Linked DNA regions of Homo sapiens. The main gene of each other region encodes a partner of the protein of the gene in region 3 in a complex. Each region holds a gene or a part of one and is shown on either strand. Other genes may lie near its edges. A codon is read from its position in the direction of its gene.

Region 1 (9,012 bases), on a different chromosome or scaffold from region 3:
CTGGTGTTGAACTCCTAAGCTCAAATGATTTGCCTGCTTTACCCTTCCAAATATTTTAGTTTTTGAGAAAGCTCTCACTATTTTACCTAAACTGGTCTTGAACTCCTGATCTCAAGCAATCCTCCTACCTCAGCCTTCCAAAGAGCTGGGAATGGCAAAAATGTTACTTATCAAAATGAAAGGCCAGGTGTGGTGGTTCACTCCTATAATCCCAGCACTTTGGAAATGCGAGGCAGGTGGATCACCTGAGGTCAGGAGTTCAAGACCAGCCTGGCCAATATGGTGAAACCCCATCTCTATTAAAAATACAACAATTTGCCAGGCATGTTGGCACAGGCCTGTAATCCCAGCTACTGAGGAGGCTGAGGCAGGAGAATCACTTGAACCTGGGAGGCAGAGGTTGCAGTGAGCCGAGATTGCACCACTGCACTCCAGCAGGCAAAACAGAGCAAGACCCTGTCTCAAAAAAAAAAAAAAAAAAAACGAGAGAGAATAGGTCATAGAATAAAAACATTTCAGCTCAAATTTTATTTAGTTAATTACTATTATTATTCTTTTTTGTAGCATCGGAGTCTTGCTATGTCACTCTAGCTGGCCTCAAACTCCTGGCCTCAAGCGATTCTCTTGCCTCAGTTTGCAAACTGCTGGGATTACAGACATCACCATGCCAGGCCACAACCCAAACTTGAAAAAGAAAATCTAAGTGGCCTTAGAAGAGTTTGCAAGTCAGCTGACCAATGTGGTACCTCCTTAAGGAGGGCCTCTGAGGCCCGATGAAAAAGGCTTATATAAAAGGCTCATGACCAGCTCTGCCAGTGATGAACATGTGTCAAGTCGTTCTGCTGTCCCCAACTCCCGGACCCAGGTGGCTCTGAATTAGCTTCAGCTAATAAAGAACAAAGACGGGGGGCAGAAAGGCTCCCCAAACTTGTGCAAATCCAGTGAGAAAACACTTTGCACATCATCTGTCTCAGCTGTTCTGCAGGTGAGGCACACTCAGAACTGCACCACCCCAGGCAAGCAGTTTGCCAGGACTCGGGGGCCTCAGGGTTTCATCTCGGGGCCTCCGCCTGCACCAGCGAGTGGGCCTGGCTCAGGGCGAGCCTGTCCTTCTTCTCCTTCTGCAAGACCTGCTCCTCCCACAGCGCCTGGTCCACCTGATCGTCGGTGAGCACGACAGGCTTGTACTTCTCATCGAAGAGCCGCTCGTTGGTCTCGGAATGCAGCTGCTGGGGCCCGACCACCCGCAAATGCGCCGGCAGGTGCAGGAATTCGTCGTCGTTGATGTCGCAGTCGCGCATCCAGGCCCCCAGCACCCACCAGCGACCCACGAAGCCCACGTCCAGGACCCGGCCGGGGAAGTCGGTCCAGCGGGGCTGCAGGTAGCGGCAACGCGCCTGGTAGAGGCTGGCCTGGGCGTCGAAGGGCGCCTCGTACACCAGCGAGCAGAGCCCCAGGTTGACGTAGCGCAGGCGGCCACGGCCCCGCAGCCAGAGCAGCCTCTGCACGAAGGCTTCGGACTCGCGGTTGCGGGTGGCCGGCGCCAGCAGCAGGAGGGTCCCCGACGCCTCCAGCAGCGCCTCCTCGAAGGCACCCTCGCTGGGCGCCAGCGTGAAGCAGGCCGCCGCGCCGCCCAGCAGACCCACATACACAGCGGCGCGCCCCGGCCGGGCCCTAGCCTCCGCCGAAGCGTCCCTGCAGGCCTCGGCGTAGTCCCGGAGCAGCGCGCGGGCCCAGGACCCTGAGGGGAGAGGAGCGCGGTAAGAGTGATCCGGCCGCGGCGGCCACCCACCCTGTCGCGGCGGCCACCCACCCTGCCGCCTTCCGCCGCTACTCACCCAGCCGCGCCCACACTCCCGGCTTCGCCACTACCGCGTCGCCCGCCTCTGCGCGGCGCCGGGACCAAAATCTCCTCAGAGCCGCCGCGGCCATCCTCTTCCGTCTTGGGGGTCCTTGCTCCGGGAAGAAACTCCTGATACCCGACGTTAAGAGCCCGGGAGTCTCTTCTGCGCAAGCGCCAACTTTACCGGAAGTGGCTTCCCAACGGGAGAGGATAGAAAGAGGACAGGCGCCGGATGTTGCTGTCAGGTCTGAGTCGGTTGGAGTCTGACGGGTAGGCGAGACGCGCAGGCGCAGAGAGCCCCAGCCACGCCGGCCCAGGTGGCCTCAGGTGAGGGGGGGCGGAGCGCACCTGTGGGGACGGGACGACGAGTTCAAGCCTCCGTGGGTGCAGTTGGTCGCCAGGTAGGGCTGGGGGCCGAGGGACCGGCTCGGGGGCGGGGGGGAAGTGTGCCTGACCGGTCTCTGTCCTCAGCGAGGGATGCGGAGACGCCCCTGAACGACCATGGCATCGGCCGACGAGCTGACCTTCCATGGTGAGTGCGGCCCCGACGTGGCCGGATCTCCCACTCCCGCCCCGGGCCAGAACCTCCCCCCGATACGGCTTCCAATTTCTCTACCCCGAAGCCTAGGCGGCTGTGAACCCTGACCCAGGAGTGAGACCCATCTCTGACTCGAACCCCGCCCCCGCCCTGAACTCAGACCTCAAACCCGAGCCTCTCGTCCCCAGACCCTGACCCCATCCCAGCGTCAACCCTAAGTTGCAGTTCCACTTTAGGAGGAAGGGAACAGATGTCCTCCGGATGCCTCCAAACTGAGGAAGTTGGGCCCCACCTTGGGGGAGATCAATGGCTCAGCAGAGCCTCCGCCCCCAGATGAGCATCGGTTTAGCTTGGGCCCAGTCGAGTTCTTTCCACCCCTCAAACGTGCGTGTGTCCCATATACCTCCTCCACAGAATTCGAGGAGGCCACTAATCTTCTGGCTGACACCCCAGATGCAGCCACCACCAGCAGAAGCGATCAGCTGACCCCACAAGGGCACGTGGCTGTGGCCGTGGGCTCAGGTGGCAGCTATGGAGCCGAGGATGAGGTGGAGGAGGAGAGTGACAAGGCCGCGGTGAGTCCCTGTGTCCTGCCTCCTTGCAGCCCCCAGCTGACCCAGGCTCTCCGGGCAGGCACTGAATGCCCGCAATGTGCAGCTCCTGCAGGAGCAGCAGCAGCAGCAGCAGCCGGGATTCTGGACCTTCAGCTACTATCAGAGCTTCTTTGACGTGGACACCTCACAGGTCAGGCTGGGGAGGCAGGTGGGATGGGGCTCAGAGTTATGCTCAGGGTTCAGCCACTCTTCCCCTGGGCAGGGTGCTGGTGATGGTGGGTGCTGGTGAACGAACTGTGGTGCTCTCAAAGGGTTATGGTGGGACTGGTTATGGATCGGGACTATGGGAACACAGGGGACACACACAATCTGGTGGGTTAGAGAAAGGCCTCCTGGGGGAGGTGAGGAATTGGCTGAGACCTAAAGGAGACAGAAGGCTTCCCTGGGGAATAGGGTAGGGAAGCAGGAGTATATGTTCCAGGCACAGGGAACAGCATATGCAGAAGACCAAAGATGGACTGGGCGCAGTGGCTCCTGCCTGTAATCCCAGCACTTAAGGGGGCCGAGGTGGGCAGATAACCTGAGGAGTTCAAGACCAGCCTGGCTAACATGGGGAAACCCCGTCTCTACCAAAAATACAAAAACTGCCGGGTGCGGGGTGGCTCATGCCTGTAATCCCAGCACTTTGAGAGGCCTGGGTGGGTGGATCACCTGAGGTCAGGAGTTTGAGACCAGCCTGGCCAAACATGGTGAAACCCCGTCTCTACTAAAAATACAACAAAATTAGCCGGGCTTTGTGGTGGGCGCCTGTAATCCCAGCTACTCTGGAGGCTGAGGCAGGAGAATCGCTTGAATCCGCCAGGCGGAGGTTGCAGTGAGCCAAGATCGTGCCAGTGCACTCCAGCCTGGGCAAAAAGAATGAGACTCTGTCTCAAAAATAAAATAAGATAAATAAAATAAAATTAAATAAAAAATAAAATAAAATAGAAAAATTAGCCAAGTGCAGTGGTCGGCGCCTGTAATCCTAGCACTTTGGGATGCCGAGGCGGTGGATCACTTGAGGTCAGGAGTTGGAGACCAGCCTGGCCAACGCGGTGAAACCCCATCTCTACTAAAAATACAAAAATTAGCCAGGCATGGTGGCACACACCTGTAGTCCCAGCTACTCAGGAGTCTGAGGCTCGAGAATCACTTGAACCTGGGAGGCGGAGGTGGTAGTGAGCCAAGATCGTGCCACTGCACTCCAGCCTGAACAGAGTGAGACTCTGTCTCAAAAAGAAAAAGGGGGTGCTGAGGCCGGGTGCGGTGGCTCACGCCTGTAATCCCAGCACTTTGGGAGGCCAAGGTGGGAGGATCATGAGGTCAGGAGATCGAGACCATCCTGGCTAACACGGTGAAACCCCATCTCTACTAAAAATACAAAAAATTAGCCGGGGGTGGTGGTGGGCGCCTGTAGTCCCTGCTCTTTGGGAGGCTGAGGCAGGAGAATGGTGTGAACCCAGGAGGCGGAGCTTGCAGTGAGCCGAGATGGCACCACTGCACTCCAGCCTGGGTGACAGAGCGAGACTCCGTCTCAAAACAAAAAAAAAAAGAGGGAAAAAAAAGAGGGGGCTGGGAACGGTGGCTCACGCCTGTAATCCCAGTACTTTGGGAGGCCGAGGTGGGTGGATTACCTGAGGTCAGGAGTTCGAGACCAGCCTGGCCAACATGGTGAAATCCCGTCTCTATTAAAAATACAACTATTAGCCAGGCGTGGTGGCACACGCCTGTAATCCCAGCTACTCGGGTGGCTGAGGTAGGAGAATTGCTTGAGCTCGGGAGGCAGAGGTTGCAGTGAGCCGAGATCATGCCACTACTCCATCCAGCCTGGCCGACAGAGCAAGACTCTGTCTCAAAAAAAAAAAAAAAAAAAAAGAGAGGGAAAGGCTGAGTTCTTTCAGGTGGGGCATGGAAAGAGAAGGGTGGAGGTCAGCAGGGAAGGAGCCTCTCAGGACAAGGGAGAAGCTCCTGGCAGACTTCCATCCTTGACCTTGGCCTTGCCCCCAGGTCCTGGACCGGATCAAAGGCTCACTGCTGCCCCGGCCTGGCCACAACTTTGTGCGGCACCATCTGCGGAATCGGCCGGATCTGTATGGTGAGTGAGGTTGTGCATTTGGTTCCTTGATGGATCACTCAACAAGTGTGGCCTGAGTTGCAGATGCCAGTGTATAGCTGCGGACAAATCAGTCACTCAGACAGTGTGACTTACCTGCTGTTCAGGGAGACAGAGACATGAAGGACTGCAGAGGGTGGCGGGTAGAGAGCAGCAGAGCAGACAGGAGGAGTGGCCCTGCAGTTCTGCAGGGTGCAGCAGGGCAGGCCTCCCTGAGGAGGGTGAGGGAATGAGCCTTGTTGGCAACAGGAGGGGTGGGGGAGACCTAGGAAAAGAGGCTTCCAGAAACGACGTAAGCTTCATGGCAGGAACTTGCATGAACTGCAGGGCGGCATTACCACTGGAGCGAGTGAGCTGCAGGGAGGTCACAGGCGAGGGGACAGATCACACAAGCCTCCCATGCTGTGGCAAGAAGAGATCTTTTTTTTTTTTTTTTGAGACAGAGTCTCACTCTGTCACCCAGGCTGGAGTGCAGTGATGTGATCTCAGCTCACTGCAATCTTCCCCTCCCGCATTCAAGCGATTCTCCTGCTTCAGCCTCCTGAGTGGCTGGGATTACAGGCACGTGCCACCATGCCCGGCTGATTTTTATATTTTTATTAGGGACGGAGTTTCACCGTGTTAGCCAGGCTGGTCTCAAACTCCTGACCTCAGGTGATCCACCCGCCTCGGCCTCCTAAGTGCTGGAATTACAGGTGTGAGTCACTGTTATCTGGCCGAGAATGGATCTTTAAGTGTTTTCGGGGTCCCTCTCGCCATCATGAGTGGCGAGGGCGGAAGCCAGGAGGCTGGGGTGGAGGCGGCCACATGGTGGGGACTGTGGATGTGGAGAGTGGCACTGGATTCTGGAACGTGCTGGGGAAGTAGAAGAGACTGGCTTTGTGGCTAGATAGGTGGGGGTGGGGGGAGTGGGAGGTTAGGAGCGGAGGCAGGCTCTAGGGATTTCTGCCTGGACTAACGGGATGGATAGAGTTGCCACGTATCCACGGGACCAGCTTGGCAGTGAGGGCAGAGGGCAAGGGTGTGGATGAAGCCGGAGATGCCCACCCGGGAGCTTGAACTGGAGCCTGCAGTGCTCAGGGCAGAGCCCTGGGCTCTAGAGGAGGCATAAGGCCCTGGGCTTGAAGGAGGTCATACTATGGGTGAACGCAGACATGGAAGGGGCCAAGAACTGGGCCTGGCTGCTCCCCATGGCTGAAGGGGTCAGAGAGTCAAAGAGGAGGTGACAGGGGTTGAGGAATTGGCACCAATGAGGTGAGACACAGGCCAAGGGTGTGCAGTCCTGAGTGTTTCGGGGAGGGGGATGAACTGACAGCCAGCACTGGGCTCAGCCACCAGGAGGCCCCCGGTGTCCTGGTGAGTCAGGCAAGGTGCTTAGGAAGAGGCTGGGGTCTCAGCACAGCTCAGTCAGGATACATGTCTGCTTGTCCTGGGAGTGCAGGGCCCGGGACCCTGACTGTGCCCCCTACCCCCAGGCCCCTTCTGGATCTGTGCCACGTTGGCCTTTGTCCTGGCCGTCACTGGCAACCTGACGCTGGTGCTGGCCCAGAGGAGGGACCCCTCCATCCACTACAGCCCCCAGTTCCACAAGGGTAAGCAGACGGGCAGGCCCAATGCCTGGCAGGGCCCTGGGGTACAGGGGGTGACTGCTCACCTTGCCCCCCCCAGTGACCGTGGCAGGCATCAGCATCTACTGCTATGCGTGGCTGGTGCCCCTGGCCCTGTGGGGCTTCCTGCGGTGGCGCAAGGGTGTCCAGGAGCGCATGGGGCCCTACACCTTCCTGGAGACTGTGTGCATCTACGGCTACTCCCTCTTTGTCTTCATCCCCATGGTGGTGAGTGTGGCCTGGCGCGGAGTGGGTGGTGGCTGTGTGGGGACACTGGCATGGTCACCTGCCGCCTCATTCCCATGGTGGTGAGGGTGGCCTGGTGCAGAGTGGGTGGTGGCTGGGGGGACTGGCATGGTCACCTGCCGCCGTGTTGCTCCCAGGTCCTGTGGCTCATCCCTGTGCCTTGGCTGCAGTGGCTCTTTGGGGCGCTGGCCCTGGGCCTGTCAGCCGCCGGGCTGGTATTCACCCTCTGGCCCGTGGTCCGTGAGGACACCAGGCTGGTGGCCACAGTGCTGCTGTCCGTGGTCGTGCTGCTCCACGCCCTCCTGGCCATGGGCTGTAAGGTACGGGTCTGGGGTGGCCACAGGTGGGGCCGAGGGGCTAGGGGGGCATGGGCTGGCCCTGCCTCTGACCCCAGGGGTCTTGTGCAGTTGTACTTCTTCCAGTCGCTGCCTCCGGAGAACGTGGCTCCTCCACCCCAAATCACATCTCTGCCCTCAAACATCGCGCTGTCCCCTACCTTGCCGCAGTCCCTGGCCCCCTCCTAGGAAGGCCCGGGTCCCACAGGTAAGGACTATTCCCAGCTGGGCTAAGGGGGCTGCCCTCCCACTCCCAGTCAAGGCGAGAGGTTCTGGGGCCACTCCCAGACAATTCTTTCTTTCAGGCAACACCTAAGTGGACCAACCCCTCTGCCTGTCCTGCCCCCCAGACGATGACTGAAGGCTCCTTTGACACCTTGAGATGATTCTGCTACTTTCCAGACTTTTCTTACAAAGCAAACACTTTTATTTTCTATGCAAAGGTGATTCAGAGAATTTATATAAAGGCGGGCGAGGGGCAGCCGAGCAGGGAGCTTTGGGACAGGGCTGGGGCCCCCATATCCCCCCCGGGCCACCTGCTTTCCCTCCTATGGCTCCCCTGGAACAGGAGGGAGAGCCAAGGGGGCGGCCCAGCCTGGACAGCGCCCGCTCCTGCCTGGGTGCACACACGGCGGGCCTGAGCTCCAGCATCTGAGTTTGGGGGTATGAGAAACAGGGGAGCAGAAGGAGAAGAAAACTGCCTGTGCTGCAACACGTTTCCTCATTTATTTTTTCTTTCTTTTTCTTTTTTTCTTTTTTTGGAGGGAGAGGTCCCTGCAAGGTCCCTTCCCGGGCAGGGGAGGGATGGAAATGCCGTCACAGTAGTAGGGACTGGAGCGTCTACAAGGATGGAGGGGAGCTACTCAGGCCTAACGTTAGCTACAAGGAAAAAGGACGCCTTCCGTGACAGATCCTTGAGGTGTCTGTGTCTGCCCCAAGTGGCCGGCAGTGGCCTTCCCTCCGGGCCCAAGGCCTGCAGCCACCTGCTCTAACTCTTGAGTGGGGGGGCGGGGGGGGACCTGCAGGGGCTCGGGGACAGGACAGCAGCAAGAGGCAGGGGCCGAGGACGGAGGCCTTCCCGACAGTGGGGTGGGTTGTACATTCAAGTGTGAGGTGAACCCTTTGGTGGGGAGGGGGCCCCTGAAGCCTCGGCGGGGCCACCCCTCCCCGCGGCGCCTCTGAGTCTAGGGAGAGGGGCTGCTGGCTCGGCCCGGCCGGCCTGGCTTCACAGAGGGTCTGCGGATTGACACTGGTTCTTTTCATAAAAAAATAAAATTAAAAAAAGCAGCATGTCACGTCCGTTGTGACCGAGGCCTGGTCGTCGAAGGGGAGGCCCCGCCTGGCCAGGCTACCTTCCCACTGGAGACAGGCAGGGGGACAGGTGCTAAGGGACCTGGCAGGCAGGGCTGGCAGGCCCCATGGCGCCTGTTCCAGCAGATGACAAGCCCAGGTCAGGGTAGAGCGGGCAGGAGGGGGGACGAGGGCTCCCACAACATGATTTTGTGTAAAATATGGCAGCGACACACGCTCAGGGCCGGGAGGTGGGGGTTAGGGTGGGGACGGCGGCAACATCGTGTAAAAAAGTGTCCCAGTTCCCATAGCAAAGAGAGCTGTGACCGGGTGTTCGAGCTTCTCCAGTACAAGGGGGAAAGCCGCCCGGCGGGGGCGGCGGGCAGGGACATCATTTGGTTTCCTGGTGCTGTCAGTCCGCGGGGCGGGCCCCTAGCTCCCGTAGTG
Region 2 (2,537 bases), on a different chromosome or scaffold from region 3:
CACAGCCTTTCTGTATGGCCCTGGGAATTCTGGTTGGCTTTGGAAAAAACAAAGCTTGACTTTGGTGGCTCATATTGAAAACCTCATCCTATTAGAAGTCTTAACTATTTTTTTAAGACAGGGTCTCGCTCTGTTACCCAGGCTGGAGTGCAATGGCATAATCATAGCTCACTGTAACTTTGAACTCCCAGCACATTGGGAGGTCAAGGCAGGTGGATCACTTGAGCCCAGGAGTTCGAAACCAGCCTCGGCAACATGGTGAAACCCTGTCTTTACAAAAAATACAAAAAAAAATTAGCTAGACATGTTGGTACATGCCTGTGGTCCCAGCTACTCGGGAGCTGAGGTGAGAGGGTCACCTGAGCCCGGGAGGCAGAGGTTGCAGTGAGCTGTGATTGCACCACTGCACTCTAGCCTGGGCGACAGAGCAAGACCCTGTCAACAACAACAACAACAAAAAGCACCAGCCCTCATCTCTACTAAAAAATAAAATGAAAAATTAGCCAGGCGTGGTGGTGTGTGCCTGTAGTCTCAGCTACTCCAGGGGCTGAGGTAGGAGGATCACTTAAGCCCAGGAGGTTGAGGCCACAGTGAGGCACTGCACTCCACCCTGGGCAACAGAGAGAGAACCTGTCTCAAAAAAATAAATAAATAGGCTGGGCGCGGTGGCTCACGCCTGGAACTTCAGCACATTGGGAGGCTGAGGCAGGCGGATCACGAGGTCAGGAGATCAAGACCATCCTGGCTAACACAGTGAAACCCCGTCTCTACTAAAAATACAAAAAATTAGCCAGGCATGGTGGCAGGCACCTGTAGTCCCAGCTACTCGGGATGCTGAGGCAGGAGAATGGCGTGAACTCAGGAGGCGGAGCTTGCAGTGAGCCGAGATCACGCCACTGCACTCAAGCCTGGGTGACACAGCGAGACTCCCTCTCAAAAATAAATAAATAAATAAATAAAATTAAAATAAGTAAAAGGTTGAGAATTAAGAATGTTGTTTTCTCATTAAAAAGGAACAAACTTACTACTGGGTCTACATTTTAATAATCGAAACAAGAAGACAGGAATGTGGGCTTTCACTTAATACACTTGCAGAAAATCTAGTCCAGAAGCTTTTTGAAAACAGAGACTTATCATTGCTCTTAGTGACTACAAACTGGCAGGCATTCAATATATATTAATGCTTGTCAGTGAATGAAAGTATCAATTAAAAGCTATGGTCAGTTGCTGCCAATTAGTACTATTTAATTCTCAGATATATTCAAAGAAAAGCAAACTACCCCACTGATTCTTTTAGAATACATGCATTTTAAAAAATTCATATTTTTGTGTTGCCTCTTGGATCTTCCCTTTTCATTCCTAGACCACCTGTTCAGAACATTGCTTACAGAAATATTTAAAAATGACACAAAGAATATCCATGAGATTTCAGGAATATCATATTCAGCAGAATGAAGCCCTGGCAGCCAAAGCAGGACTCCTTGGCCAACCACGATAGAGAAGTCCTGATGGATGAACTTTTGATGAAAGATTGCCAACAGCTGCTTTATTGGAAATGAGGACTCATCTGATAGAATCCCCTGAAAGCAGTAGCCACCATGTTCAACCATCTGTCATGACTGTTTGGCAAATGGAAACCGCTGGAGAAACAAAATTGCTATTTACCAGGAATAATCACAATAGAAGGTCTTATTGTTCAGTGAAATAATAAGATGCAACATTTGTTGAGGCCTTATGATTCAGCAGCTTGGTCACTTGATTAGAAAAATAAACCATTGTTTCTTCAATTGTGACTGTTAATTTTAAAGCAACTTATGTGTTCGATCATGTATGAGATAGAAAAATTTTTATTACTCAAAGTAAAATAAATGGAAATATCACTGAGCAGTTGTTTATACTGTATGGTACCATAGTATTCTCACTGGACTGTGGATACGTTGAAATGTTTTTCAATCAGGATCATCCTCCAAGCAGTCCTGTTCATTCATGTCTGCCTCAAATTGCTGGTGAATACATAAAATAGTTACTTGCTAATCATTTCAATGCATGATCCTTTTCTTGCCTCCCTTGTGTCAGGGTGGGCATTACATATACTTTTCTTTTTTTTTTTTTTTGAGACGGAGTTTTGCTTTCGTCACCCAGGATGGAGTGCAACGGCACAATCTCAGCTCACTGCAACCTCCACCTCCCCAGTTCAAGCAATTCTGCTGCTTCAGCCTCCCAAGTAGCTGGGATTACAGGTGTGTGCCACCATGCCCGGCTAACTTTTGTATTTTTAGTAGAAATGGGGTTTCACCACATTGGCCAGGCTGGTCTCGAACTTCTGACCTCAGGTGATCCGCCTGCCTCAGCCTCCCAAAGTGCTAGGATTACAGGCGTGAGCCACCGCGCCTGGCCACATATCTTACCTACATTTTCGTATATCTTCAGGAAACAATCCCATCTGCCCTAGTTTGGGAATGTTTAAGAGTTGACTGTTATACTGTAATGGAGTTCATGTTTGTGTTTTGTTCAAAAGCTGACAGTCAAATATGATA
Region 3 (9,664 bases):
GGAGCACGTTCACAGTCCTGTGTGGGAAGATCATTCTGTGAATAGTTTGGAGAAGAGCAAGGTAGGAGGCTCCAAAACCAGTTAAGAGCCTATTAATTAAGAGGCCGGTGCGGTGGCTCACACCTGTAACCCCAGCACTCTGGGAGGCTGAGGTGGGAGGATTGCTTGAGCCCAGGAGTTTGAGACCAGTCTGGGCAACAGAGTAAGAACCAGTTTCTGTAAAAAAGGTTTTTAAAAGTTAGCCCGGGGCACGGTGGCTCACACCTGTAACCCCAGCACTTTAGGAGGCTGAGGTGGGAGGATTGCTTGAGCCCAGGAGTTTGAGACCAGTCTGGGCAACAGAGTAAGAACCAGTTTCTATAAAAAAGGTTTTTAAAAGTTAGCCCGGGGCACGGTGGCTCACACCTGTAATCCCAGCACTTTGGGAGGCTGAGGTGGGCGGATCACGAGGTCAGGAGATCGAGACCATCCTGGCTAACACGGTGAAACCCCGTCTCTACTAAAAACACAAAAAATTAGCTGGGCGTGGTGGCGGGCGCCTGTAGTCCCAGCTACTCGGGAGGCTGAGGCAGGAGAATGGCGTGAACCCAGGAGGCGGAGCTTGCACTGAGCCGAGATCACACCACTGCACTCCAGCCTGGGCAACAGAGCAAGACTCCATCTCAAAAAAAAAAAACATTAGCCCATTACCCCGGCATGGTGGTACATGCCCATGGTCCCAGCTACTTGGCAGGGTCGAGGTAGGAGGATCCCTTGAGCCCAGGAGATCGAGGCTGCAGTGAGCCATGATGGGGCCACTGCACTCCAGTTTGGGCCACAAAGAAAGACCCTGTCTCAAAAAGAAAAAAAGAGGCTCAGAGAAGACATTACTTCCAATTAGATTAATCAGAAAAGGTAAGTTTTGAAGGGCAGGAATATTTAAAGACAGAGCTGAGGGGCATGAGTGGAGTGTTGTGAGAAGAAAAAAGAATTACTAGCAAAAGTTCACAAGGGTCTGAGTGTGGCAGCTCACATCTGTAATCCCAGCACTTTGGGAGGCCAAGGCGGGCAGATCACTTGAGGTCAGGAGTTCAAGAGCAGCCTGGCCAACATGGTGAAACTCCGTCTCTACTAAAAATACAAAAAAATTAGCTGGGCGTGGTGGCTCACGCCTGTAGCTGGGGTCAGGAGGCTGAGGCAGGAGAATCACTTAAAGCTGGGTAATGGAGGTTGCAGTGAGCTGAGATCGCACCATTGCACACCAGCCTGGGCGACAGAGCGAGACTCCATCTCAGAAAAAAGAAAAAAAAAATGTGGTCCCCAACCAGCAGTAGCATCACCTGGGAAATCCAAAATTTCACACCCACCTCAGACCTTTCTGAGTCAGAAACTAACTCTGCGCTCAGCAGCTTAACCACCTGGTTCTCAGTGATGGTTTAGGACAGCCTCACGGACCTCCAGTAAGCCCAGCCCCTCACCAGGCCAATACTCTATGAAGATGAACAGATGATGCTATTACGTGCCCTTCACTGTGGAGACAGAAGGGAGGGACCGACGGTGCTCAGGGCTGGGCCTGGAGGACCCCATCCGGAGCCTGGAGTGCTCTTTATCACCGGCTGCCCGTGGGAACCCACGACTCACGGCTGGAGGCCCCACGCCCCCTGCCTTGTTTCCATCTGCTGCAGCCAGCGACGTCAAGCCTTATTCCATCTGTCAGACCAGGCCAGACGATAAATGTCCTCTTGTGGGGAAAGTGATTCAGAGAGAAAAGCTAAGAGCCACTCCACCCTCACATAATCCACCTCACATAATCCACCCTCACATAATCCACCCTCACATAATCCACCTCACATAATCCACCTCACATAATCCACCCTCACATAATCCACCCCTCACATAATCCACCTCACATAATCCACCCACACTCACATAATCCACCTCACATAATCCACCCTCACATAATCCACCCTCACATAATCCACCTCACATAATCCACCCTCACATAATCCACCCTCACATAATCCACCCTCACATAATCCACCTCACATAATCCACCCTCACATAATCCACCCTCACATAATCCACTCTCACATAATCCGCCTCACATAATCCACCCTCAAATAATCCACCCTCGCATAATCCACACTCACATAATCCACCTCACATAATCCACCTCGCATAATCCACCTCGCATAATCCACCCACCCTCACATAATCCACCTCGCATAATCCACCCTCACATAATCCACCCTCACATAATCCACACTCACATAATCCACCTCACATAATCCACCTCACATAATCCACCTCACATAATCCACCCTCACATAATCCACCTCACATAATCCACCCTCACATAATCCACCTCACATAATCCACCCCTCACATAATCCACCTCACATAATCCACCTCACATAATCCACCCCTCACATAACCCACCCTCACATAATCCACCTCACATAATCCGCCCTCACATAATCCACCCTCACATAATCCACCCTCACGTAATCCACCTCACATAATCCACCTCGCATAATCCACCCACCCTCACATAATCCACACTCACATAATCCACCTCACATAATCCACCTCACATAATCCACCCTCACATAATCCACCTCACATAATCCACCCTCACATAATCCACCTCACATAATCCACCCTCACATAATTCACCCTCACATAATCCACCTCACATAATCCACCCTCACATAATCCACCCTCACATAATCCACCCTCACATAATCCACCCTCACATAATCCACCCACATTCACATAATCCACCTCACATAATCCACCTCACATAATCCACCCTCACATAATCCACCCCTCACATAATCCACCCTCACATAATCCACCTCACATAATCCACCCTCACATAAGACTGTGCAGCTGTCTGGTCTCCATTTCTGCCGGGTGGGGTATTCCATCCTCATCTCGGGCAACATGTCCCAAAAGTATGGTTTCCAGTATGGCTCCTTAGGTCCCACCCATTTCTTCTCTGGGACCCCAAAGACCCAACCCCCACCTTTTTTTTCTTTTTTTTGACACGGAGTCTCCGTCTGTCTCCAGGCCGGAGTACAGTGGCACCATCTCGGCTCACTGCAAGCTCCGCCTCGTGGGTTCAAGCGATTCTGCTGCCTCAGCCTCCTGAGTAGCTGGGACTACAGGGGTGCAGCCACTATGCCTAGCTAATTTTTGTATTTTTAGCAGAGACAGGGTTTCATCATGTTGGCCAGGATGGTCTCGATCTCTTGACCTTGCTTCAGCCTCCCAAAGTGCTGAGATTACAGGTGTGAGCCACCGCGCCCAGCCAAGACCCTTAAAAGAAGGACACTTCACTTCCTCTTACAACTCAGACATACCTGTGAGGCTCCTGGGCTATGGAACACCCCAGCCCTTTCGCAGCCCTTGATGGAAATTGTTTTTCAGCCCTCTGAATAAAATGACCACTGTTTACTTAATCTTTTTTTTTTCTTTTTTTTGAGACAGGGTCTCGTTCCCTCGTCCATGCTGGAGTGCAGTGGCACGATCATGACTCACTGCAGTCTCAACTTCCCAGACTCAAGCAATTTTCCTGCCTCAGCCTCCCAAAGTGCTGGGATTACAGGTGTGAGCCACCATGCCCAGCAGAGGAATCTTTTCCGATCAACATCTTCTGAGAGTCCCTGGCCCAAGTAGGCAGATGCTTGCTACGGCACTGCCTTCAGGCCATTAGCAAAAAGTGTGCTTAAATGCCCAGAGGTGTTCCCAGGCCACGTTTTGTTCATACGAGGAGTACAAAATGATGCCAAAGTGTTAGCATTCTTGGGACTGAAAACCTCTCTCCAACATCCCCTAGGATTTTCCTGGATATGACCAGAAATCCATTCCCAATTTCTCTGCCTCCAGGCCCCAATTCTGGTTTCCTCAAAGAGGAGGAAGTGTTCTTGGTTCCCAAAATATGCTTGCAGTGCAGTGGTATAATGGTAAATGTTTAACAACAATAACAAAAAGGCCCTAACTGGCCGGGCGCAGTGACTCACGCCTGGAATCCAAGCACTTTGGGAGGCCGAGGTGGGTGGGTCACCTGAGGTCAGGAGTTTGAGACCAGCCTGGCCAACATGGTGAAACCTTGTCTCTACTAAAAATACAAAAATTAGCCGGGCATGGTGGCATGTGCCTGTAATCCCAGCTAGTCGGGAGGCTGAGGCAGGAGAATCGCTCAAACCCGGGAGGTGCAGGTTGCAGTGAGCGGAGATTGCACCACTGCACTCCAACCTGGGTGACAGAGCAAGACTCTGTCTCAAAAGAGTAATTTTAAAAAGTAAGGCAACAAATTATCAGGAGTTTTTGAGCTGGTTGTTAAGCACAGTTATTATTAAAAATTACATTCTATACATTTATAATAAATTACACTAAAAATAGGTAATATGTGCTCAAAACTCATCCCCTCCTAAAAATTTTACTACACTGTACTCCTATCTATGCTGTTGAGGTTATTTCCATAGATTGTATCTGTGTGATAGAAACACCATGTAACCACATGCTGCTGTACGTCTTCCCAATTCTGACTGATGACCTCGCTTGGTAGTTTGAAATCAGCCATGATGGGGATATTAACACCACACAAGTCAGCAAATGCTGTCAGTTAGGATTTTTTTTTTTTTTTTTTTTTTTTTGAGACGGAGTCTTGCTCTTGTCGCCCAGGCTGGAGTGCGATGGTGCGATCTTGGCTCACTGCAACCTCCACCTCCCGGGTTTAAGAGATTCTCCTGTCTCAGCCTCCCGAGTAACTGAGATTACAGGCGCCTGCCGCCACCTGGCTAATTTTTATATTTTTAGTAGAGACGGGGTTTCCTGCTTCAGCCTCCTAAGTAGCTGAGAATACAGGCGTGCACCACCATGCCCAGCTAATTTTTTTATTTTTTATTTTTTTAATTTTTAGTAGAGATGGGGTTTCACCATGTTTGTCAGACTGGTCTCGAACTCCTGACCTCGTGATCCACCGGCCTCGGCCTCCCACAGTGCTGGATGACAGGCGTGAGCCCCCGCGCCCGGTCCGTGCATTTACAGCACAAGTTCACGCTTATCTACAAAGCATCCACCTCTCACCGCACCTTCCGGGACCACGGGATTTAACGCCTCACCGCCCGATGACAGCACGAGGTGGAAAGGGCAGCGACAATGCTCGCGCGTCCCCTCCCGGCGATCCGGAGCACGGCAGCCCCGGAGCGCGCGGCCACTCCTCGCTCCCCTCAGGAGCTCGTAAGAGCCCCGCGCGGGGCCGAGGCGCGAGAGCACGCGCAACGCTTCCTGGGAAATGTAGTTGGGTGTCGGATTAGAACTACAAATCCCGGTACTCACCGCGCTGCAGCCCCGACCGTGAGGGCGCTTTCTGGTGAATCTGAATCTCGTTTGTCTGTGACATGGGGAAAGCTGTCCAAGCCCAATTCCATTTTCACAAGAGGCTTTCTTTTTGGAAACATGATAGCGGTCTCGCTGGTGTGCGCACCAGGAGCGTTGCGGCCGCGGCTTCCTCCTGCGGCGAATCTGCCGTTGCATCACAGTGGCTAGTCTCAGGGCCCGCAACGTGACGCTTGTCGAATCTGCTGCGGGGAGAAGGACGCGAGGGTTGCTTGGGCAGCGACTGTCATGGCGGCGGCCGCCCCCAATGCCGGAGGCTCGGCCCCTGAGACAGCGGGTTCCGCCGAAGCTCCGCTGCAGTACAGCCTGCTCCTGCAGTACCTGGTGGGTGACAAGCGTCAGCCCCGGCTCCTGGAGCCTGGGAGCCTGGGCGGGATCCCAAGTCCAGCCAAGAGTGAGGAGCAGAAGATGATCGAGAAGGCGATGGAAAGCTGCGCTTTCAAGGCTGCGCTGGCCTGCGTGGGAGGTGAGGCCGGGCGATGGGACCCTTGGGAGGCTGAGGGCCTGGACGGCAGTGGGGATCTCTGCCGAGAAGACCACGCGCCTGGGAGGCGAGGGACTGCGGGCCTTGACCTTGACCACACCCTCGCCTCGTTCGTGAATCGGGCGTCACCTCTCCTGCCCCCTCAGGCCGGCTTTCCTGATGAAAATTGGGTTAGAGAATCGGTGCTGTGGTTGGGGCCTGAAAGTTATTACATGACATCCTGGCTAACACGGTGAAACCCCGTCTCTACTAAAAATACAAAAAATTAGCTGGACGTGGTGGTGGGCGCCTGTAGTCCCAGCTATTCGGGAGGTTGAGGCAGGAGAATCGCTTGAACCCAGGAGGCGGAGCTTGCAGTGAGCCGAGATGTGCCACTGCTCTCCAGCCTGGGCGACAGAGCGAGACTCCGTCTCAAAAACAACAACAAAAAGTTATTACGTGGGTGACTTCATTCATCCGTTCATTCCCTTAAATTCATTCTCTTAAATAATTCTTTCAACAAATTGTTCCTAAGCAATATCACGTGCCAGGTGAAAGAGACAAGAGCCTGGTCTTCATGGGGCCTGTATTATACTATGTGGAGAAGAATGTTGAGCAGGAACACTGCAGAGGAAGGATGCAGACATATGGAAATGCACATGCAGACGACTCTAGGGCAGCAGTTGTTTGAGGTTTGAAAAACTGAAAGACCATTGTGACTAGACAGCCCCGAGCAAGGAGAGACGAAGTCTGCACTTGTCCTTCTGTTTTTCCCTTAAGTTGAAGGGGAGGTGCCCATGATTTTATTAAACTCATATTGACCATGAGGTCATGAGAGGGCATCCATCTGGACATGTCCAGCCGGCTCAGGAAGGACAGATGTGGCAGCAGTGTGGGATTTGCCATTAGGTAGCTGTGTGGCCTTGGGAGAAGTTGCTTAACCTCTCTGAGCCTCAGTTTATAGAAAGGAGAGGCTAATAGCATCTGTCTCACTGGATTATTGTGAAGAATGAATGAGGCTGTGGCATACTGGCATGTGCTCAGTAAAGCATTACTGTGAATGTCACAGTGGCCAAGAGAGTGATTTGCAAAGTTGATAGCTGAAGTTGAGGGTGGCTGGTTTACATATGAGAGAATGTAGAGAGAATAGAGGGTTAAAGATGGAATCTTGAGAAATGTTAGGGAATGACAGGAGGAAGAAATCTTAGAGACGGAGAAGATGATGTCAGTAACATAGACCCTGGATTGCAAGTCTCCAGGCAAGTGGAGAGTTTGAGTGGCAAGAGGGGGGTGTCCTCTGCACCGGTGGTCATCCAAAAGCATGGTCCCTTCCAGGATGATCCCAATAGAGTAATGCAGAAAACATGCCAAAGACACCTTCATCTCTGTGTTTGCTTCTAGGATTTGTCTTAGGAGGTGCATTTGGGGTGTTTACCGCTGGCATCGATACCAACGTGGGCTTTGACCCTAAGGATCCTTACCGTACACCGACTGCAAAAGAAGTGCTGAAAGACATGGGGCAGAGAGGAATGTCCTATGCCAAAAATTTCGCCATTGTGGGAGCCATGTTTTCTTGTACTGAGTGTTTGATAGAATCTGTAAGTGTCTCTGCCTTCTAAGAAATCCTTGCTGGGGCCACCATTTCATTACTTTTAAAGAGAAATTGCTCTTTAAAAGTCATTTGAAAGTTGTTACTAGAAAGCAAATCAGAAGCATCAGATACATTCTAGGTTGAACTTCCATAAAATAGTCCCTGTGGCAGACTTTGTGTGTGTTTACAGTATGGGCTTGCATTATTTTTTACTTTTTGTAGGCTAGAAGTTAGCTAATGATTTTAAACGAGACTTATTGGAGAGCCCCTTGAAGAAATTTTGATTACATTCCAAATGCTGGGCTTGGTTTCAGCACTCTGGTGCCACCTGCAGGAAGCATCTATGAACGCATACTATATATATATATATATATATATATATATATATATACACGCTGTATACTTAGGAACTATATTTTCAAGAAAGATTAGGTTTCCTTTGGGTAGGGACTGAATGAGCTAACGAGCAACCCTGTGTATTCCTCCTTAATGGTCTGCCTTGGCTTGTTTCTTTGGCTCTAACGTGTACTTCCCTGCCCACAGTACCGGGGAACATCAGACTGGAAGAACAGTGTCATCAGTGGCTGCATCACGGGAGGAGCTATTGGTTTCAGAGGTTAGTAAACGGCTCTCGAATGCTTTTTCTTTGTGGCCTTGGACAACGTGCTGAGGTTGTCATTTCCAAACACACGAGTGTTCCAGGGACACTTGATCTTCTTCCCTCTGACAAATAAATCATGTTTGTTTCTGTGGTAACTCGGTTTTGGAAACTTGTAGGATCTAGATGAGGGTTTCCCATCGTTGGCACTACTGACATTTCGACCAGACGAATCTTTGTCGGGATTGGGTCTGTTTTGTGCATTCTAAGACGTTGAGCAGTATCCCTGGCCTCTACCCACGAGATGCAAGTAGCACCCCCGTCCGTTGTAACAACTTTTTTTTTTTTAAAGAGACCGAATCTCACTCTGTCGCCCAGGCTGGAGTGCAGTGGCACGATGTCAGCTCACTGCAACCTCCACCTCCTGGGTTCAAGCGATTCCCCTGCCTCAGCTTCCCAGGTAGCTGGGATTACAGGCACCCGCCACCATGCTCAGCTAATTTTTATTTTTTTAGTAGAGATCAATTTCACCTGGTCTCGAACTCCTGACCTCGTGATCTGCCTGCCTCAGCCTCCCAAAGTGCTGGGATTACAGGCATGAGCCACCACGTGTGGCCAACATTTTTCTCAGTAATTCTAGACAATTGTCTTTTAATTTTAGATATAAATTATAATGGTAATATCTTTCTGCCCTTGGGGATTCTGATTTCTACCCATTGAATGCTAAGTACAGATATTCTAGAAATATTAGATTATCAGCTGCAAAAAAAAAAAAAAAAAGAAAACCAATTTGCTGCCTCTTCTCCCCGTTGGCATGTCCATTCAGAGCGTGGTGGAGGGCCTTGGTGACTTGACTTTCCTAGAAGCAGCAGTGTTTTATCACTGGGCCACTTTCCATCTGTCATGCCCTAACTTACCCAGAGCAAAAAGCCAGTTTTCTCATCTTCTGAGAGACAGGATGATTTGCTGTCATGAAACCTGGTTTTGCTCCTCAAGCACCATTTATGATGACGGACTGACTTCTCCGCCGGTCGTCCCATTGTTCAGCTTCACCAGGGCCTCTTTGAGAAGCTCTGCTGTCTCCAGTACTGCTTTGATCACCTTCCCAGGAATGTATTCCATAAACAAATCAGGGTCAAGGCCATATGCTTTCATTTGATTCCGAGGGCTGCTTCTCTCAACCAGTTTCCTGCCTGCGAGGGGCTATTTCCCTAAGACTAGAAATACCCTTTGAAGGAGAAAAGCTAAACAAATGTAGTTAGATAAAGCGCACTGGATTAGATCATATACACTGCTTCATTGATGTCTTCCAGAGCTATGATCGTTTGAATGACTTACAGTGCTTAAGCTCATTTCATGACACTGAGGGTGTGCCAACTTTCCGTGAGTGCCTCGTGACCCAGCAGCTGTCACCACAGGTCATGTTCTTTCTGTTTGTTTGACAGCTGGCTTAAAGGCTGGGGCCATTGGTTGTGGAGGTTTTGCTGCTTTCTCTGCTGCGATTGATTATTACCTCCGGTGAGAGTAATTGCCTGCAGGGAAGGATGATGCCAGCCCCGGATCCGGGCTGCTCTCTGGAGGACAGTTTCTGTACCACACCAGGGCCTTGCTTCAGGGCCTGAAGACA
Region 4 (9,251 bases), on a different chromosome or scaffold from region 3:
TATCACTTTATTTAAGGGTTCAAAAAGAGATGAAAGGCAAGGAAATTCAGCCTATTGCACGAAAACCACTAGTTTAAGCTATACAGGAATCTAAAGAAGGAAGGGACTAATGGAAAGCAGAAGCATTGGCTGCAGTGAAATCAGAGAATGATAGAGGGAATAGTTCAATAAACCAAGTGGAAGGAATATGGTCAATAAATAAGATGCAAGTATTTTGAAGATGGAGCAATTTGAGGTGATGATAATGGCCAAGATATGACAAACGGAGTGAGTGGCCAAGACAGAGTGGAAATCATCAGAGATTGGGCCAAATAACTAGGAGACAAAACACCAAATGAATTGTCTATGTAAATGTTAAAATATCAAGGAGTGGACAGGAAGACCAAGGGCTAGCTATTTAAAGTAGCAGGAGAGTAGTAGTAAATGAGAGTGGTAGACAAGTAATCAGAGGGTTGTATGGATGAACAGCCTCAAAAGAATGAGGCTTTGCAAAGGAGTGGGCAGTTCTGAAGCCACAATGGCAGGAACAACAAAGTATCTCCAACGTTTACATTTATGATAACATGATAAAGCTTGTCAACATTTATTCTTTAGTGTTGTGCTTGGAACATCACATTGCTCCGATTATGCCAATGGCTATCACTTTATGGTAAAACCTGAGGAAGACCAGATTATGGAAGGTAAAGTGGTAGGAATAAGGTTTTTCTCCTGAACACTGAACATATTTATAAACAGGAAAGAACCAGGACAAGAGATTGAAATTTTAAGAAAGGGATTAAGAGATGGGTCAGACTGAGGGACATTTGTTTTTTCATGCCTAGAGGCAGGTTAAGTACAGATAGAAGCTCTCAAAGTTCAAAGAGCAAAGGCTTTAGAATCAGACAGATCTATGCTCCTAGCTCTTCTTTAGCAATTACTATTGTGTGACATGGAAGGACGGGAAGCACAGATAATTCACAATGGAAGTTTATTGCAAGGATACACACAAATGTTGATGTGGAAGGGTCCTCCCACCAGCAGCACAGTATCACAGGTCCCATCCTCCTATCTTCTGGAAGTTAAGAAGTTCAAACCTGTTTTACTTGCATTTATATTTCCCAAGGACAGAGTGCCACCCTGTGGGTAAGGTCCTAGTCAGCAACTTTTACCTTCCTAACAAACTTTTCTGTTCAAGAGATAGCAGCTAAAGGGGGCAAAAAACATGATTGGAACCACTTTTCTCAATAAGAAACTTTGTATAGGCCGGCCGTGGTGGCTCACACCTGTAATCCCAGCACTTTTGGAGGCCGAGGCGGGCGGATCACAAGGTCAGGAGTTCAAGACCAGCCTGACCAATACAGTGAAACCCCGTCTCTACTTAAAATACAAAAACAAAATTAGCTGGGCGTGGTGGCGCATGCCTGTAATCCCAGCTACTCGAGAGGCTGAGGCAGGAGAACTGCTTGAACCCGGGTGGCGGAGGTTGCAGTGAGCCTAGATCGCTCCACTGCACTCCAGCCTGGGTGACAGAGCGAGACTCTGTCTCAAAAAAAAAAAAAAGAAGCTGTGTATAAATGTTTGCACGAAATCTGCAGAATGTGCCTTCTGGCACATTCTGGATTCTTGCTTCCTCATCTGTTAAGTGAGGTTAATACCTCTTACTTATAGTTGTTGTAAAGATTAATATAAAGCATGACATCTACCAAAATCAGAACCTACACAAAGTGTGTGCTCAATAAATACTATCTTAAGAGGCAGCCTGCTGTGTAAAATGAACATGGACTTTAAAGTCAGATCTGCACTTTAATACCGGGTCTGCTACTTGAGAATTTCAATTTTCTGCTCTGTAGATAGGATAGAACATCTGCTTTGTAGGTAGTTGTAAGAAGTTTTAAAATTATTACTGTGGAAACCAATGTCTAAGAGCTTCAATTTCTCTAAAAAAGGAAACAGGGTCACCTGATGAGGGTGGGGTATGGGATTAAGGACAGCAGTAGAGGTGTAAAATAACTGCCATGGTAATTAGAGAAGGAAATGGACCAGGAACCCATAAAGGTGTGTGTTGGTGTGACTGCGTGTTGGTGTGAGGACTTGGCTGAGGTTGGAGGCCTTGAATATTTAGTGGCATTCATTACACAACTGTTTTTCTCTAGCAGTTTGAATGAAGGAATGGAAAAGACAGAATAAGTGGAATGATACAAAAAGATGGCCAATGGTGGCAAGAAAATGGGGTGATGGAATGATATGCTATCCAGGCTGCTGAATACAGAAGTAAATTACACAAAGTTGGGGGGCGGGGGAGGCAATAATGAGAAAAGAATGGAGAGGCTGGAATTAGAAATCACAGAATGTACTCAATGGGACCAATGTGGGGCAGATGATAGAAAGCTGGATTTAGGAGTTTCTAGACGAGCAGTGAAACATTAACGTAGCATTAAAGAAGTCCCGAAGATTTAGTTTTATCCCTTTTTATCATAACCATTGCCATCTACTTCTCCCTTCAGTTTCTCTTCCTCGGATTTGGCTGCATTGCAGAATATGGTCCCCAGCTCTCTCCCTTCCTGATTGCCCGTGAAGACAACCACACAGACCTTTGTTCAAAGGTTTTACTGCTCATCCTGAGAAGACTGTACATACTAAGAAAGTAACAACCTGGGGAAATGGCTGAAGTTCCAAAAGACTCCAGACTTCTTACAGGTTTCATCTCTCTTCTGTGGCCACTAACTTCCCAAGGAGGCAGTGCCCAAAAGCCCTGTGGTTTTTTGATCCGTTGTACTTCGATAGCTCCTCCTTTCCCTAGATCCAGCAGAACTCTAGACATGTAAGACATAGTTCACAAAACAACAGTTATGAACCAACAAATACTTGGCTCACGGTTATGAGCCACTGAAGTCAGTCAGACTTAAGGACAACTAGACAGAGCTCCCATTTTCTGTCATCTGGGCAGGAACCAATCTCCTGTTGTATAAAATGACCTTCTGGTACTTTCTGGAATCTTGCTTCCTCATCTGTTAAGTGAGGCTAATACCGCTTACTCATAGTTTTGTTGTGAAGATGAACTAAGAGCATGACATATTACCCGTTTTAAAATTGTACACACAGACCCTGCTTTAACCAGATGCCTGCAAATGCTCAGGTTTTCCTTCTACATATAGAAAACAATTTCTCAGCTGCCAGGGCTGAAGCCAGCAGATATGCACTAAACGACAGAACAACGGATTGTGCCAATAAAGTAGGCAAAGCTTCCTTGCCCAGAATATAAATCAAACTGAGTAAAAACTGGGTATATTGGCTCCAGGAAAAGGAGCAAGGACACCCAGCTTTCAGGCAACCTCGAATTCTCTCTGTTTAGGATTCACCAACCCCAAGGTCCACCGGGTCCTTCAATCTGAGGGTCCATCCAAGGCCTTCCTTCCTGGGGTTGGGTATGGCTAGCTGCCTGATGGAGAGACCCCAGGCTGTTCAGCAGCAACGCCTGGCACAGCCGAGGCAGCCTCGTAGTCTGCGATGCGGCGCTGTACCAGGGCAGGCATGAGCTGCACGTAAGCGGCCATGAGGCGGTGGTTGGAATGGATCAGCTTCCCAGCACAGCTGTGCAGACAGGCCTCCTAGAAGGAAGATAGGGTTTAAGTGGAGGATAAAGGTGCCCTGTCGGGTCCGCCTCCTTTCTTCCCCATGCCCAGCCTAGGGGTGAGGGTCGTGGGAAGGCCAGGGCCAGAGGTACGGGAAGTGGGGTGAGGAGGGAAGCAGTCTACCGCTAAACTCTTCTTGCAGCGTAACCTCCCTACACAGTTCCCCACCTCCTCAGCGTCCAGAGCTCGGTGGTGCAAGCTGGGCACACAGCGCTGGAAGCAGAGTTCTGTCATCCGATTGTAGACCAACAGGAAGTCACGCAGCTGAGAGAAAAGGGGGACCACAAACTCAGCGATAAGGGCCCCACACTTCTAGTCAAGGTCGCGCCGCCCAAAGTTTCCCAGGCCCGCGCGCCATAGCCCGAAGTTTCCAGCCCTCAAATCCCTGGCCCTGTGGGGTTCCCGCGATGTGTGCAGGAATGCGAGCTGAACGTCTGGCCTCGAAACGACTTAGTTCTCACTTACGTTTCGCAGTTGCTGTTGCTGCTGCTGCTGCCGCTCCATCACGCCACCGGCGCATGCCGTACGCCACTTCCGTTTCAGCTTCTCGGTGCCGCCCCGGAAGTAACCTCTCGCTGATCTCGAGAGCTAGCTCGAGTATCGCCCTGCCCTGGCTGCGACGTCAGCTCCGCCCTTATAATCTGCGACGTGGCCGGCTTCTTCTGCCCGGAGAGGACGTCATTTCCGCCGAGTCCCTGACCTGCTGCTAGGATCGCGACGGGAACTGGAGCCCGAGGTCCCCGCGCGGCCCGGGCCTGGCGCCCTGAGGGGAAGAGCGGCCCGGCCCGAGGTGAGAGGAACATGCTTGGGCGACGGGAAGTTGAACGCACAAACCTGTCCAGAGGGCAAGATGCCCCGAGCCCCGGGGAAGGATGAGGACACACCTGATGTCCAGGTGTATGGGGGTGGGGGCGGGGACTCACACACCTGGGAGACATAACTGACTGTGGAAGGGTCACCGATATCCTGGGAGAGAGAGGCTTTTACCAGAGACTGGGAACATACACCCACTGATCTAACTAAGGCCTGGTGGGGAGGGCCCGAGGAAGACGAGGTGTATGAGACGGAGGAGGGGAGACCCCCTGAAGGAAGGGGGAAGAAACGCTAAAGGAATGTGAAAGGCCAAGCAATGGAGAACAAACCTGAATAGGGGGGTGAAGACCTGAGCCCTGGAAAGGGTTCATCTCCTCAGCATAAACACGCCTGCATGGAGATAAGTTCTAAGAGAGCAGACTTTCCCTCTTCACTGTTGTATTTTCATTGTCACAAATAGTGCCTGACACATAGTAGGCACTCACTAAATGTCTGCTGAATGAGTGTAGAAATAATCACCAGAGTCCTGGTGAGGTTGGGGGCTTGTGAGAAGACACCGTGCTTTGGTGTGCCTGTTTCAAATGTGCGTTTTGGAGGGGAGAAATACATATATCTGAAGAAAGGAATGATGGCCAAACGCTGGGACACTCAAACCCTGGGACAGCCTTTAAAGAAATGACAGAGGAGGCCTCCTTCTTCTAGAGTGCTGGCCAGTGTCCAGAACTTCTGTGTTGGGCTTTGCAGGGTGCTGGGGTGGAGAGTTTTACTCCAATACCTTTCCTAGCCATGACGGACGGGATCCTAGGGAAGGCAGCCACAATGGAGATCCCTATCCACGGGAACGGCGAAGCCAGGCAGCTTCCTGAAGATGATGGGCTGGAGCAGGTGCTTCTGTTTGATTCTTCTAATTGTTTCAATTTAGGAATCCAATTTATAAATCCTAGGTTCTCACCCTCCATTCCAGTAGCCTTCCCCTGACTTATCTGACTCCCTTCATTCTTTTTACGTATCATTTTGATTCTGTGCAGACTTCCCTTGTGTACTATCTTTATGATGCTTGAATCCAAACTTGTTCCCACCTCCAAAATGCTTCTGCAGCCCCTATGTTCCTGAAGCAACCCCTCTTCTCTGGCCTATAGGACCTCCAGCAGGTGATGGTGTCAGGACCCAACCTCAATGAAACCAGCATTGTGTCTGGTGGCTATGGGGGCTCTGGTGATGGACTCATCCCCACAGGTATGAATGTTCAGAAACAGGAATCTTGGGTGGAGGAGGGGACAGGAATGGTTTGGGGAAGCATAGGATATGTCTAGGAAAGCTTGAATTATGTCTGGAGATCTTGGGAACTTCTGCTTGTAGGAACCTCATGGACTCTCCTCAGCCCAAAAGCAACTCCCAGCGTTGTCCATCCATTTCCCTTTTGCCACTTAGCCCCTGAAATGGCTCATTTGTCCTTTCCCTGCCACCACCTGAGTCAAGTTAAGACCTGCTTCACAGGAATGCCCCCCCTCTACAGCTTGAGGCTGAGTTGGAACTTTGTGAAGCTTCTCAGAATTTTTAGATTCTAAAGTTTAGAGGAACAAACAGCCCTGAATCTCACACTAAGATTCCACATGGGAATGCAACCAGGTTTCTTGTTATCATGACCCACCATCCTTGACTCCTGCTGCCCCCAAACTCAGTGTATTTTCTTCTGTTTCCTCTGCCCCTGTACACCAACAACTCCCTGCAAACCCCTCCTCTAACCCCCAAGGAGGCCATATGTATATCAGGATTTGGTTCTCACCGCGCAAAGTCCGAGTTCCTCCTAGTAAGCAGGAGCATCCAGTTGTCTCTAGCATCTCCTTCAGGGAAGTCAATTTCATGTGCTCGAAGAGAAGTATGGGTGGGGCCACAGAGGTGTCTGGTGTATCTGAGAGAGGCTGGTGTCAGAGAACTTGATCCTTTAGGGTCTGGCCGCCATCCATCTCACAGCACCACTCCTTCTGGCCCTGGAGATGAGGTGGCTCGGGGCATTGCTGGAGAAAAGTTTGACATCGTCAAGAAATGGGGCATCAACACCTATAAGGTAGGATTTAAGCACCTCTCCCTTCCCCAAAACTCCTTATGGGTACCTTTTTCCCTTTTCTTCGTGATCGTAATATCCCATCTGTGGCTGAGAGTAGGAGCCTGGGGGGTGCTGGGGTAGATACCTGTTGTGTGGGGAGGCTGTTAGGGTCTCTGATTTATTCCCCCATTTCCCAATCAGTGCACAAAGCAACTGTTATCAGAACGATTTGGTCGAGGCTCACGGACTGTGGACCTGGAGCTAGAGCTGCAGATTGAGTTGCTGCGTGAGACGAAGCGCAAGTATGAGAGTGTCCTGCAGCTGGGCCGGGCACTGACAGCCCACCTCTACAGCCTGCTGCAGACCCAGCATGCACTGGGTGATGCCTTTGCTGACCTCAGCCAGAAGTCCCCAGAGCTTCAGGTGCCTCACCCAGACCAAAGAGGGTGGGGGAACTGGGCATGGGCCCTCCCAGGCAGTCATTCCTCATCCTCCCTCCCTCCTGCAGCCCACAGGGAGAACCCCTTCAGGGTGGGCCCAGCCCTACCCCCAGCAGCACTCACCTGTGGAGGCAGCCTAAGGGTTTGTACAGAGGTCCAGAAGTTGGAGGGGGTGGGGGAGGGGGCACACTAGGTGCCTCACAAATAACCCCTCTCTGCACTGGGGAGAATGCCTTCGTGCTCAGCCTAATCAGAGCCCCTCCCCTGCTTGCCACACTAGCTCTCAGACTGTTCCAGTCTTGTGAACTTACCCAAGAATGCCCACCACCCACATTCCTACCCCAGGTATCCCCAGGGTGATCCCACTAACTTTCCGGCTAAGAGAGCCTTGCTGGAGGCAGTCCTTGGTTGTTCCAGTTTTGCTGGCTGTGTCCTCCCCGGGGAGGAGGGGAATGAAGGGCTCTACAGCTTCAGTCAGGTAGGGAGTGTTATTCAAGGTCTGTTCCTCCCTTCTGCCCTCAGGAGGAATTTGGCTACAATGCAGAGACACAGAAACTACTATGCAAGAATGGGGAAACGCTGCTAGGAGCCGTGAACTTCTTTGTCTCTAGCATCAACACATTGGTCACCAAGACCATGGAAGACACGCTCATGACTGTGAAACAGTATGAGGCTGCCAGGTGTGGGCACTGGCAGGGCTTAGGGTTTGGGGAGTTGGCTGGTATGGGTGGAAATTTGGGCATTAGGGGCATAAGAATTCAGGAAGGAAAGGAGAGTATGTGTTGAGGATAAAGGAGTGGAGACCAGCCTTTATCACCCCCTCCCCAGGCTGGAATATGATGCCTACCGAACAGACTTAGAGGAGCTGAGTCTAGGCCCCCGGGATGCAGGGACACGTGGTCGACTTGAGAGTGCCCAGGCCACTTTCCAGGCCCATCGGGACAAGTATGAGAAGCTGCGGGGAGATGTGGCCATCAAGCTCAAGTTCCTGGAAGAAAACAAGGTGCCAACCCCACCCCCTTGACCCTAGCCCACCTTTCCATCTGTAACACTAACCTTCCCCTCAGACCCTCCCCATTATTGAATGAGGAAATGCAGCCTAGCTGGGGAGTAGAGTGTTCACCCCCTCAACCCCTGGGCCTTTCCAGATCACCCTCCCTCCAATTCCTGGCCCTTTCCTGTTGGAGGATTTGGCTGCTGGTCCCAGGAACATAACTGGGAAAAATCACCCCCTGAGCTGGGGTACAAAAACCCTAGGCCCACAAATCCAGTGAGGTTTCTTCCATCATACTGACCCTTCTCCTTTGACTCCCTGGGTAGAGTTCAGCCCCTACCCCAAAAGCACCATCAGAGCAGAGTCCTTGTGCCCCTGGTCTGTGCCTGGGCTCAGGCTCATAGACCCTCAAGAAGGGCGCCTGAGTCCAGCCTTAGCTGACCCTGCTGGACCCCCAGATCAAGGTGATGCACAAGCAGCTGCTGCTCTTCCACAATGCTGTGTCCGCCTACTTTGCTGGGAACCAGAAACAGCTGGAGCAGACCCTGCAGCAGTTCAACATCAAGCTGCGGCCTCCAGGAGCTGAGAAACCCTCCTGGCTAGAGGAGCAGTGAGCTGCTCCCAGCCCAACTTGGCTATCAAGAAAGACATTGGGAAGGGCAGCCCCAGGGTGTGGGAGATTGGACATGGTACATCCTTTGTCACTTGCCCTCTGGCTTGGGCTCCTTTTTCTGGCTGGGGCCTGACACCAGTTTTGCCCACATTGCTATGGTGGGAAGAGGGCCTGGAGGCCCAGAAGTTGCTGCCCTGTCTATCTTCCTGGCCACAGGGCTTCATTCCCAGATCTTTTCCTTCCACTTCACAGCCAACGGCTATGACAAAACCACTCCCTGGCCAATGGCATCACTCTTCAGGCTGGGGTGTGCTCCCTGACCAATGACAGAGCCTGAAAATGCCCTGTCAGCCAATGGCAGCTCTTCTCGGACTCCCCTGGGCCAATGATGTTGCGTCTAATACCCTTTGTCTCTCCTCTATGCGTGCCCATTGCAGAGAAGGGGACTGGGACCAAAGGGGTGGGGATAATGGGGAGCCCCATTGCTGGCCTTGCATCTGAATAGGCCTACCCTCACCCACCCACCCAGTTTAATTGTGCTTAGAGCCCAAGAAGATTGGGATCTAGCACTAGGAATAAACCTTTCATAAAAGCAGGCCCAGCGAGGTCAATTTGTCGGGGACTCTAGGAGGGTGGCCTGGGTGGAGACAAGCTCAGTCTAATCAAACACCAGAACCCTATCAAGTCAAAAGAGCTGGGGCCAGGCAGCTGAAGTCACAGGTTTCAGAGATGG

What was found.
Region 1: TIMM22 (region 3) and TIMM29 share a complex: the UniProt entries of both Homo sapiens proteins name them as parts of the TIM22 complex.
Region 2: the proteins of TIMM22 (region 3) and TIMM9 are in contact, whole or in part, in a cryo-EM structure (PDB 7CGP), measured with the Homo sapiens proteins. Residues at the interface, in NP_037469.2 of Homo sapiens: Asp35 (codon at 5,716), Arg37 (codon at 5,722), Gln38 (codon at 5,725), Pro39 (codon at 5,728), Arg40 (codon at 5,731), Leu42 (codon at 5,737), Gly45 (codon at 5,746), Ser46 (codon at 5,749), Leu47 (codon at 5,752), Gly49 (codon at 5,758), Ile50 (codon at 5,761), Ser52 (codon at 5,767), Pro53 (codon at 5,770), Lys60 (codon at 5,791); in NP_001291414.1 of Homo sapiens: Gln13, Glu16, Phe17, Thr20, Leu57, Thr60, Gln61, Met65, Phe67, His71, Gln74, Asn75, Leu78, Lys81.
Region 4: TIMM22 (region 3) and TIMM10B share a complex: the UniProt entries of both Homo sapiens proteins name them as parts of the TIM22 complex.

The regions. Positions count from the first base shown.
Region 1 is NC_000019.10:10,921,743-10,930,754, reverse strand, and holds TIMM29 (mitochondrial import inner membrane translocase subunit Tim29), read right to left. Parts: upstream 1,945-9,012; 5' UTR 1,933-1,944; coding exon 1,839-1,932; intron 1,742-1,838; coding exon 1,053-1,741; 3' UTR 501-1,052; downstream 1-500. Other genes in the region: protein YIPF2, read left to right, coding at 2,345-2,375, 2,796-2,956, 3,039-3,125, 4,982-5,069, 6,563-6,679, 6,756-6,922, 7,078-7,260, 7,348-7,464; histone-arginine methyltransferase CARM1, read right to left, coding at 8,998-9,012. UniProt on the Homo sapiens protein: Component of the TIM22 complex, a complex that mediates the import and insertion of multi-pass transmembrane proteins into the mitochondrial inner membrane.
Region 2 is NC_000014.9:58,407,995-58,410,531, reverse strand, and holds the end of TIMM9 (mitochondrial import inner membrane translocase subunit Tim9), read left to right. Parts: intron 1-1,363; coding exon 1,364-1,498; 3' UTR 1,499-1,949; coding exon of another isoform or gene 1,950-2,003; 3' UTR 2,004-2,037; downstream 2,038-2,537. Other genes in the region: TOMM20L (TOMM20-like protein 1), read right to left, coding at 1,950-2,003. UniProt on the Homo sapiens protein: Mitochondrial intermembrane chaperone that participates in the import and insertion of multi-pass transmembrane proteins into the mitochondrial inner membrane.
Region 3 is NC_000017.11:991,530-1,001,193, forward strand, and holds the start of TIMM22 (mitochondrial import inner membrane translocase subunit Tim22), read left to right. Parts: upstream 1-5,599; 5' UTR 5,600-5,613; coding exon 5,614-5,851; intron 5,852-7,249; coding exon 7,250-7,446; intron 7,447-7,982; coding exon 7,983-8,055; intron 8,056-9,482; coding exon 9,483-9,559; 3' UTR 9,560-9,664. UniProt on the Homo sapiens protein: Essential core component of the TIM22 complex, a complex that mediates the import and insertion of multi-pass transmembrane proteins into the mitochondrial inner membrane. In the TIM22 complex, it constitutes the voltage-activated and signal-gated channel.
Region 4 is NC_000011.10:6,476,381-6,485,631, reverse strand, and holds TIMM10B (mitochondrial import inner membrane translocase subunit Tim10 B), read right to left. Parts: upstream 4,132-9,251; 5' UTR 4,116-4,131; coding exon 4,077-4,115; intron 3,876-4,076; coding exon 3,780-3,875; intron 3,588-3,779; coding exon 3,411-3,587; 3' UTR 951-3,410; downstream 1-950. Other genes in the region: ARFIP2 (arfaptin-2), read left to right, coding at 5,211-5,309, 5,564-5,660, 6,275-6,492, 6,673-6,894, 7,434-7,591, 7,740-7,914, 8,364-8,519. UniProt on the Homo sapiens protein: Component of the TIM22 complex, a complex that mediates the import and insertion of multi-pass transmembrane proteins into the mitochondrial inner membrane.